Regions from separate parts of the Homo sapiens genome. Here region 2 is linked to region 1. The links come from fine-mapping of genetic effects on gene expression. A gene starts in region 1. The other region holds a variant in brackets. All regions are shown on one strand. Distances are from middle to middle.

What was found. PIP is the estimated chance that this variant, and not a neighbour inherited with it, causes the effect. A credible set is the group of variants that fine-mapping cannot tell apart.
Region 2: its variant is the best candidate, but not a certain one, in a credible set for the expression of KCNE5 in monocytes (TOPMed, PIP 0.55).

Annotation. Positions count from the first base shown.
Region 1 is chrX:109,622,156-109,627,534 of GRCh38, forward strand. It overlaps KCNE5 (potassium voltage-gated channel subfamily E regulatory subunit 5), which reads right to left and starts at 3,017. Exons shown (of 1, transcript NM_012282.4): 1 at 1,545-3,017. The coding sequence starts at 2,865. The coding sequence ends at 2,437.
Region 2 is chrX:109,578,110-109,583,488 of GRCh38, forward strand. No RefSeq gene overlaps it. Among named protein-coding and RNA genes, the nearest start is that of NXT2, 44 kb to the left of the region's middle. The variant T/A (reference allele first, on the strand shown) is at 3,109.

The DNA.
Region 1 (5,379 bases):
GGCAAGAGGATCGCTTGAACCTGGGAGGCAGAGGTTGCAGTGAGCCAAGATCACGACACTGCACTCCAGCCTGGGTGACAGAGCAAGACTCCGTCTCAATTTAAAAAATTAATAATAATAACCTTGAGTCCCCATTATGCCAGATAAATGAGTGACATTGTTTTACTTAGAATACAGGACTGAAGACCGCCCCGTCACATGTCCTCAGCATTGCTGTATATTGTGCCCTTCCTCCACATCCTCCCCAGGCCTCCCTGCCTGGCTGAAATGGCTCACACAGCTTCCCTTCTCTTTCTGTCATCGTCTTGGACTGCTGCCCAATCCCTGGCCCTCACCTTCAGGGGTGACCTTATGGCTGGAACGAGGACTGGAGAAGAGCCAATGGGGCAAGGCCAGTATAGCTTCAATGAGTGAATCCTGGAAATAAAAGTAAGTTCACTTAACTTATTAACAGTTCCAATAAAATGCTAGATGGGCTGGAAGGTAAGACCCAATGCCTTGAATGAGGTTTGTGTGTTATCAATGCATTTAAGTGACTGGTAATATATTTGTCCTGCTATCATTATCAGAGAACCCAGCTATATTTAAGCAAATTGGCTTACTTCTAAGAGGTGATTTTATGTGTGGTTGATGAAGCCCAAACAGCCATCATCAGATATAAGCATTTCAGCTGTAAGCAGGGAAGTTTCTGACAACCTTCTTGAGACAAGGAGAATAAATCAATACAACACACACCTCTAACTTTACCCATCATTGGTTAAGATTGCTCAGTTCAAGAATTTTCTCTTTGACTTCAGATTTACACTATTTGGTGGCTTCCTTGTCTTTTAATAAGCCACTTCAAAAAAGTTATTGGCTAGGTGCAGTGGCTCACACCTGTAATCCCAGCACTTTGGGAGGCCGAGACAGGCGGATCACTTGAGGTCAGGAGTTTGAGAACCTCCTGGCCAACATGGTGAAACCCCCCGTCTCTACTAAAAATACAAAAATTAACTGGGCATGATGGGGCACATCTGTAATCCCAGCTACTCAGGAGGCTACTTGGGAGGCTGAGGCAGGAGAATCGCTTGAACCCAGGAGGCAGAGGCTTCAGTAAGCCTTGATTGTGCCACTGTACTCCAGCCTGGGTGACACAGTGAGACTCTGTCTCAAAAAAAGTAAAATAAAAACAATTATTAAGGTGGCTTCTAAAAATTAGGTTTGATAATAGCTAAAAGGGATGGGCCTTAAAGGTTTTTTAAAGTGCATCCTGAAAGACTGCATTGTGATCTTTGAAAGTGCTTCAGAAATAAGAAAAAAGGAGGGATAAGTAATAAAGTAGGTATAACTTTTGAAACACTTGAAAAAACAACCCATTTAGCCATATAAACATTTTCTTCACCCATAATCACACATATCAAATTGGAACTGGTTACATAGATATAAATATCACAACCACCCAACCCCCAAATCCAAACATCATTTCCAAAAGCAAAAGAAAAAGGATTCCTTCTCCATATGGTACTGGGTCTTAAGGCTGGAATCTCTGAGAGAAGAGTCTTGCGTTATTGTTTAAACAACCTTTATTACCTGCCTCTGACATTCCCCAGGGTTACAGAGCAGGGGGCATCTGAGCCTCAAGTTCCACGGATGAAGCAGACACTGCAATAACAACTGAATCAATAGAGGAGAGGCATTTGGAAGTACTGGGGTGATACACCCAGTAATGGTAATCCTCAGCAGAAGATGGCATAGCTACCAAAAATCAGGCGTTACCACTGGGATGAAAACTGGGGAGGCAAGAAAATCATACGGTTGGAGTCATAGATCATTTCCCTCCCCGTTGAGCACTCCTCCCCCTTCCGTCCCCCATTAAGTTCATTCTATCCCACAGACTGGTCCTAGTGTCCTGCTAGCTCCCTGCTGAAAGAGAGAGGGAGGGAAAAGATGTCTGAGGTCTCTTCATTTCCTTTGTCTCTGTCCCTAAGGCAACTGGAAGCTGGAGCTGCTGCAGTCGGCCTGGCAAGCCCGTTGGCTCTGCAGAGTGAGCAGTCCCTGGCAGCCCCTGGAGCAGCTGCCAGTTAGACGGCCCAGAGTTCTGATAGAATGCATTGCTTCAGTTCAGTGCCAAGTGTTGGACGTGTTGGATTCAGTTCCCAGAGGGCTGGAGCGTGCTGTCAGGGCTGTCTGAAGACAAGAGAGCAGAGGCAGTTTAGTGCAGTTGGATGTGCGGGGTAGGGGTGGAGGCGCAGGGGTGAAGAGGGAGAAACTGGCCCGAATGGGTAAGGTGGTGCTTCTCCTTCCAGGGCCTTCCAGACAAGGTCTCCTGGCCTCTCACCATTATCTGGGCCTCAGATGAGGCGAACCCTGGAAGGGAGTTGGGGGTGGAAGGTGGGAGGCGCGCCCAGGGATGAGCGAGATGAGGAGGGCGCGAACCAGCAATCTGGGGCTGTGGTTTTAGACCCGCTCAGCGCCCTGGGCGAGGGCAGGCAGCCCCTCGGAGGCAAGCTGGCGGCGGCCCTCGGCCTGGGAGCCCGCGGCAGCCTCGGCGTCGGCGGTCAGGGCGCCTCCCGGGGCCCATTCGTGCTCGGCGCAAGCCTGGGACGGCTCGTCCTTGGCCTCGACGAGCTTACGGGAGCGGGTGTAGGCCAGGATGAGGCCTCCGGCCAAGCAGGCGTAGAAGATCATGATGAGCAGGATGTAGAGATAGGCGTCGTCGCCCTTGGCGCTGGTCACCTCGCGGCCCACGAAAGGGTCAGGCACGACCCCCATGCCCATGCTGGGACGAGGGCCAGCGCCCAAGCCGCTGGCATTACCCCGGTGGTGCAGCTCGAGCAACAGGCGGCTCAGAAGGGTTCGCAGCCGCTGGCTCTCGCTGCAGTTCATGGCTTTCGGGGAGTGACACGGCGGCTCCAGGACGCTGCTGACCTTTCCCCCTGGGCGAGGGGAAGCGAGCTAGCGAGCGGGCCGGCCGGCGGGCAGGGCTCAGCAGCGGAAACAGCGGTAGCACCCAGCTCTCCGGCGAGCGCGCAGTGGCTGGGGGCGCCGACGGCGGGGCCTCCTTATTCCCTCACTCCCGCCCCTCCTCCCCTTCCCCACCACGCCCCCTCCGGCCCGCGGCCGCCTCTTCCCAGGCTCTGGCTGTCTCGCTGCTCCAGGGAAAGGGGACAGCTGGTGGGGGGAGGAGAAGGGGACAAGAGTGGGGGCGAGGCTGGGAGACGGGCGGAGGGGGCGGGGGCTCGGAATGCGCGAGGCCCCAGGCAGCAGACGCTGGCAGGGCAGCTTGCTGGGGCCAAGCCTGGACCCTGGGCTGCGGAAGAGAATTCCTTCCAAGTTCTGGCCACCTGCCCTGCAGGCCAGGCTTTGGCCCAGATACAGCATTTGGCCCCCTAAGGCAGCTCTGCCTTGGGGCGCTCAAGGGAGAGGGCAGACGCCTTTCCGCAGCAGAGACCCCTTGTCCACATTTTATGGAAGTTACTCCCATATACAGGGACCCAGGCCTATCTTTCTAGTCCTCATTCCTTTCCTTTTCCCCCCGCCCCCCTTTTCACCCCCCTCCCACCTTGTCGGAGGAGAGCATCTTATTCAGAAGATGCTCAGGCTGAATTTGGTGACTGAGTGCTCAGGCACCTGCTAGAAGGCCAAGGCAGAGTAGAACTCCCTGGTTATCCAAAATGGTTTCTGGTGATATAAGTGATATTACACCTTCTTGGAAGCACCCCTGCTCTGATGTCCTATGACACTTTTTGAAAAGTCAACACATCTTAGCACATGAATGTACTATTCATAATGGGAGCCTGTTTCCCATGGGTAAGTAAGCCATCTTCCCAGAAGTGAAACCAAGTTCTTCCAATAAGAGTAGCATGCACATTTTAAAAGGCCCTTTGACTACACTCTGTGGATATCTCGGGATCTGAAAAGTGCCAGTTCTAGAGAATATGCTCACCCTACTCCCAGTTAGGCCAGCAAACAGCTGTGTGCCTCTCTAGACTTGGTAACAGGTCTAGGCCCTAATGGCTTTTAGGGCAGCCATTTTTTTCTCAAAGGCTGTCTTTTTTTAGGGGAAAACAAGGCACCAAGACAAAGATCAGGCCAGATATGTTAAATTGGAAACAGACTGAGCTTCACAAAGGAAAAGGGTTGGTTTGTAGATGGTGGGGTAGAAAAAATGAGGTAGTGCTGGCTAGGTCTGGTTGTCCATAGTTGCCAAATGAGAGCAGAAAGCAAGAAAAGTGTATGACCTTAGGCACACCTTGAAAATAATGCTGCCTGTTCAAGACCGTTCAGTCCAGGGACCATTCAATCTATAGGTGCCATGGGTTAAAAAAGGAAGGTTTTCCGATGCCTCTTCCCCAACCGTTCTTCAGCCCACCATCCACCCAGGGGCTGTAGCCTTCTGTGTGTTCAGGTGAGGTTGGCACCAAACTGTATCCAGGGTCTCAAACAGAGCCTTGCTTCACAGCCTCTAAACAGGCCTCAGAGACATTCCACATGACCCTGACACTGGCTCCCTTCTAATCACCTTGCCTCAATATTCTCACCTCAGAGGGCCTCAGGAAAGAATTGTTAAAGCAACTTGGCAGGATGAATGCCAGAGGACACAGCCAGAGAATTTTCAAAGCACTGCTAACCTAGTGATATGACTGTTGAGCTAAAAAGACTTCTCTTATCTGTTAAAACAGGAGTCCCCAACCTCCCAGGCTGCTGGACCTTGGCCTGTTAGGAACCAGCCGCACAGAAAGAGGTGAGCAGAGGGCAAGTGAGCATTATCGCCTGAGCTACACCTCCTGTCAGATCAGCAGTGGCATTAGAGTCTCAGAAGAGCTCAAACCGTATTGTGAACTGCGCATGCCATGGATCTACAATTGCATGCTCTTTATGAGAATCTAATGCCTGATGATCTGAAGTGAAACAGTTTCATCCTGAAACTATCCACCCCTCCCCAGTGTCCATGAAAAAAATTGTCTTCCACAAAACCAGTCTCTGGTGCCAAAAAGGTTGAGGACTGCTGTGTTAACATATACCTAGAAATAGCTAGGGTTTTTTTTTTTTTTTTTGAGAGGAAAGGAGGAAGAAACCCCTTTACTGTAACATACAAATAATCATTTAAACTTGTTTTCTAATTTCAACAGCCTTATGAGCTAATAGGATTCTCATTTTCCAAAGAGGAAACTGAGGTTCAGACTGGTTAAGTAGCAGGACTGGAATTATAAAGTTTGACCTTCTTCTTCTCAGTCCTCACACATTACTTGTGTCAAATGGGTGGTATTCATGAGCTACCTCCATTTTCCCACCTCTCCCTCCTCTTGAACCTTCTAGAGTCCAGTGCTTTCTGCCAAAACTACTTTCTATAAGTCAGTTCACCAGTGACCTCCGGGTCAAATTCAGGGGTCTCTGCTC
Region 2 (5,379 bases), 44 kb before region 1:
ATTTGTTCTCTCCGGACCCTTAATGGAATAGATGATGTCCGCTTACAGTGGTGAGGGTGGATCCACTTTAGTCAGTTTACTGATTCAAATGCTAATCTCTTCCAGAAACACCCTCAAAGACACTCCCAGAACCAATGTTTTATCAGCTATCTGGATATTTCTTAACCCAGTCAAGTTGACACATAAAATTAACCATCACACTTACCATGGCCTACAAGGCCCTGCGTAATGTGGCCCCTGCTTGTCTCTGCATCATAATCTTTCTCTCTTACTCTGCTTTAGCCACACTGGGCTTACTGCTCTTTTTTTAATATACTGAGCCCAGTTGCTCCTCAGGGTCTTTGCATTTGCTCCAACCTCTGCCTAAACGTTTTGACCAGCTCCTTGAATGGCTGACTTCTCGACTTTGAGAGCTTAGCTAAAATTTCTATGTCCTCAGAGAAACCTTCTCTGACCACTCTGGCTAAAGTAACCTATCAAGTATTCATGGTTACAGCACCCTGTTTCTTTCTTCAGAAGAAGTATCACAATTCATAATTACATATTTGTTTATTAGTGTAACCCAGCAGTTGCATGCACATCAGACTCCTTCCAGATTATGTAGGCTCAGTTCACAACTTTGAAAATTTTGCTCTTACTCAGAGCCTTGAATACTCTCATATTTAGAGGATGATGGGAAATTTTGCTTGGCTGTTTCCATTAAGGAGTCTTTTAGCCAGCACCATGTCCATAGCACATGCACTCCTAGAAGTCCCCCTTTTTACCTCCCTCTTGTCTTCCTTTTTAACCCCTTTCCCCTCATTTCATCATGCAATTATATCCTGTGCTTGAAATAGTCCCATTTTTACTCCCTCTTCAACTTCTGTGAAAAGATAACAGTTTTGAGATAGGAAGTTATAGTTTTATTTTTTCCTCATTTCCCCTATTTCCCTTCTCTGTTTATTTAAGCAAGTAGTCAACCTTATGCCCCTATGTTTCAGGGAAAAAATGGGTCAGAGTGCTTTTCCTGACTCCCATTATTATGTCAGGCTGCCAGGGAAATCTTCAACTTAGAATTCGCCTTTCAATTTAGCCAACTGCAGCTGAGGCTGTCATCCCACATTGAGCTGCTTCCAACACAAGGCAGTTTAGGCTTCCCTCTGAATGTCAAGAAATAATGAGTAAAGCTAGTGGCATCCTCTTGCCAGTGTGAGGTGACAGAATTCCACCAGTGTATTACATAGGATCCTTGGGATCTCTTCCAAAAAGTCTTCTTCATGGAAAATATTTTCCAGTGAATGCATCCAGTCCATTTGAAAATTTTTTTCTTGAATATCCTTGATTATTTAGAGCCAAACAGCAACCAGTTAACTAGTTCTAGCATTTGCTCTATTCCCCAAAGCACTGCCCTTAGCACTCTGGAACTTTATTTCTTAGGCTATAATATCTGCTGCTATACTATATCTAAGGGACACCATAGTATCCTACAAATGGACTGTTCATTAGTGATAGTTTTTGCCATTCCCATGAGAACTTTCTTATGCCAGTAGAGTAAGTTCACATATTCTTTACCACCAACAAGGCTACTTCTTTCCTTCCCACTACTGAATACAACTCAAATATTATCCACTGAGCTTTGCACTAATTCTCTATCCTCATTTGGTGAAATAGTGGTCAGTTTAGGATTAAAGATTTCATGGCTGAAACTTTTAGCAAAGCCTTTCAAGATAGTATCTGTGTGTAGTATAAAGGCCATATTTGAATCCTCAAAAGGCTAAAATGTCCATTGACTAGTTGGTCTGTCGGCATCATGCAGTCTGCCCACACCTAGAATTTTTACACCTGTACAAATCAATTGTACACAGGAACTGGGGCAATGTGGCAGAAACTGATAGTTACCACCCTCACTCCCACCCCACCTTCTGAATATATCCACTCTTCACTTCTTTCTTTAAATATAGAAACCTTAAGTTTTACTTGTCTTCTCAGATGAAGACTACATTTCCCAACCTCCCTTGCACCTAGGTTAAGGTCATGTTACTGGAATGAAGGCAGAGGTGATGTATTCAAACTTCTGAAAAGCAGCTTTAAGAGGAAGAGATATATGGATATGACGGTAAGAGCTGGAGAAGCCATCTTAGATCACAGGAGGGAAACTGTGTCTTAGAACACTTTATCTCCATTTCCCCTCATTTTGACTTTTGTTTCTGTCATCATGCACTGTTAATTTGACATATACTTGGAATCTCACAAGATATTATTTTTATGGTTTTATAAGTTGATATTAATTTGGATTTATCATTTTCATTACTATTTATCCTTCCTGCATTTCTGTTTCCATTTAGGAAAATTTTCCTTCTATCAAAGAATAGCCTTTACTATTTTTGTTGTTGCTATTGTTGAGATAGAGTCTCACTCTGTCGCCCAAGCTGGAGTGTAGTGATCTCGGCTCGCTGCAACCTCCTCCTCCCAGGTTCAAGTGATCCTCCCGCCTCAGCCTCCCTAGTAGCTGAGACTACAGGCACGTGCCACCATGCCTGGCTAACTTTTGTATTTTTAGTAGAGACAGGGTTTCACCATGTTGGCCAGGCTGGTCTCTAACTCCTGACCTCAGGTGATCCACCTGCCTTGGCCTCCCAAAGTGCTGGGATTACAGGCATGAGCCAATGCACCCGGCCCTAGTATTTCTTTTAGCCTGGATCTGCTAGTGACAAATTCCCTCGGGTTTTGTTTGTTTGGAGAAGTCTTTATTTTACCTTCCTTTTTAAAGAGTATTTGACTATATATATTATAGAATTCAAGGTTGGCAGTTATTTTTCAGTACTAAAGGTAGCACTTTGTCTTCTGGCTTCCATTATTTCTTTTGAGAAGTCAGCCAATATCTTATTATTGCTCCTTTGAATGTAATGTGTCTTTTTTCCTCTAGATGCTTTAAAATTTTTTTTTAGTTTTCAGAAATTTGAATATGATGTACCTAGGTTTGATCCAGATTCTCACCCTTTTGCTGTACAGCAAGAGTTAGCAAATGCCTTAAGAGTTAAAGCAGTGGGTCAGGTTTCTGTGGTCGCCTTTTCTCTAACTTCTTGGATTCTCAAAACCTGACTATTTTGACAGCTTTTGATGCCTCCA[T/A]ATAGATTGCTTTTCTAGTAGTTCCAGTTGACTCACTCATTTAAATCAGACGTGCTGGATCTGAACACATCTGTGCCCACTACCTCAATGACGCCCGCTGTCACTTTCAAGAACTTCAGGCTGAATCACCTTCTGCCAGATATGGAAGACTCTATACTCACCGCAATGTTCAATCTTGTCTGCTCCTCTAAGGGACTGTCGGCTCACACGATAACCAAAACATAATAGTTATTGGAGACTCACTCTATGGCTCATCTTGGCACAAACCTTCCACCGTTCCACCACACCAGTGGTTCTCAACCCTGGCTGTACATTAGAATCATCTGGAAAGCTGTTTAAACATATCAATGGTGGACTCCTTTCAAAGACTCTGAATTAATTGGTCTAGGCTGAATATCCTCACCTGTGGTCCCACTGGCCTCAGGGAGAAAGACCGCAGTTGTGGGGAAGAAGTTGGACTGCACCTGAGGAATTGTACCCATTATTTCTTTTTTCATTTTTCTTCTTTTTTTGAGACAAGGTCTTACTCTGTTGTTGAGGCTGGAGTGCAGTGGCATGATCATGGGTCACTGTGGCCTGTATAAAATAATAAAACAAATGTCTCATTTTGGTTTTATAAAAAGAAGCAAATTGCAAATCAGGAGACTGTGATCAATTAAAGTGTTCTAAGGTCTTTCTGTTGATTGGGATGGGGTGAAAATATTACCTAATTTTAGCCTTTTTTGAGGTAAATATGCCTGGTAAAATTTTGGAACTAACCACTAAAAGAACAGAAATTGAATATAAATTCCAAACCAATAGAGGAAAAAATAATTTTAAATGAACAATAATAGCAATAAAATCAATCCCTCTGAACAAGGTGAGAGGAGAAAAGGAAGGATGAACATAAAAAATTACAGCTCAAATACTTGGATAACCACAATAAATACAAATGGACTTAATTCACTAGGTAAAAGAGATTGTCAAACTGAATTTAATTTTTTAAATGCAGTTATGTGCTATTTGCAAAAGACCCATCTGAACTAAAATAACACGGAAAAGTTGAAGATTAAACAGCTAGGAAAATATATACCAAACAAATACTAACAAAAAGAAAACTGGAATTGCTATGTTAATATTCAAAAAACTAGACACTAGGACAAGAAGCAGTATTAGGGATACAGGGGACCACTACATAATTATAAAAGATTAAATTCACTAGGAAGATATAGCAATCCGAAACCTATTCATATATCAAATTAAGTAGTTTTGAAATATATGAAACAAAATTGATAAAATTACAGGAAGAAATGGACAAATCCACCATCAAAGTGGAAAATTTCGTGCTACCTCTCTCAATTATTAATTCAAAAAGACAAAGAATCAGTAAAGATATAAGATTTGAAGAACACAATTAACAAGGTTAATATCATAAACATATATTAAACACATGAATTTTTTAAAAATTATGTACAAGACATTTTCAACAACCCCCAAAATAAGTATCATACAGATCACATTCTTTGACCATCAAACTATTCATTTAGAAATCAATAACAATAGAAAAACATCTCCCATTAATTTGGAAAATGTTTTTATTCTAGATAATTCATAGATCAAAGAACAAACGTCTTTAGATTTTAGAGAAATATACATCAAAGCCACAATGAGATGCCACTTCATACCCATTAGTATGACTATAATAAAGAAAAGACACAATAACAAGTGATAGTGAAAATGTGGAGAAATTAGAAGCCTCATACATTGCTATTTCTGCAGGAAGTTTGGAAAAGGGTTTGGCAATTTCTCCAAGTGTCATGATAGAGTTACCATATGACTCAGTAATACCAATCTTAGGTGTATGCGTAGGAGAATTGAAAACATGTCCACAAAAATACTTACACACAAATGTTCATAGCAGCATTATTCATTTAACAGCATAAGGTTCAAAATAACCCAAATGTCTATCAACTAATGAATAAATAAATTAAATATTGTATATCCATATATTGGGATATTATTTAGCCATAAAAAGAAATTAAATCATGGCTCTAAGTCTTATTTTGGACCACAGCATCTTATCGGTACCAATATGTAAGTGCTGCCTATAACCAGTGAAGGACCCTTGATATATCTTATCAAGCTCAGCCCGTGTGTGTGTGCGTGTATGTGTGTGTGTTTATGTATAAACACACACACATGTATCTCACAGCTAATTGGAGGAGAGAGGGGTAGAGCCAGTATGCTTACTAAATCATATTAATATTTAGGATCAACACATTCAGATTCAGT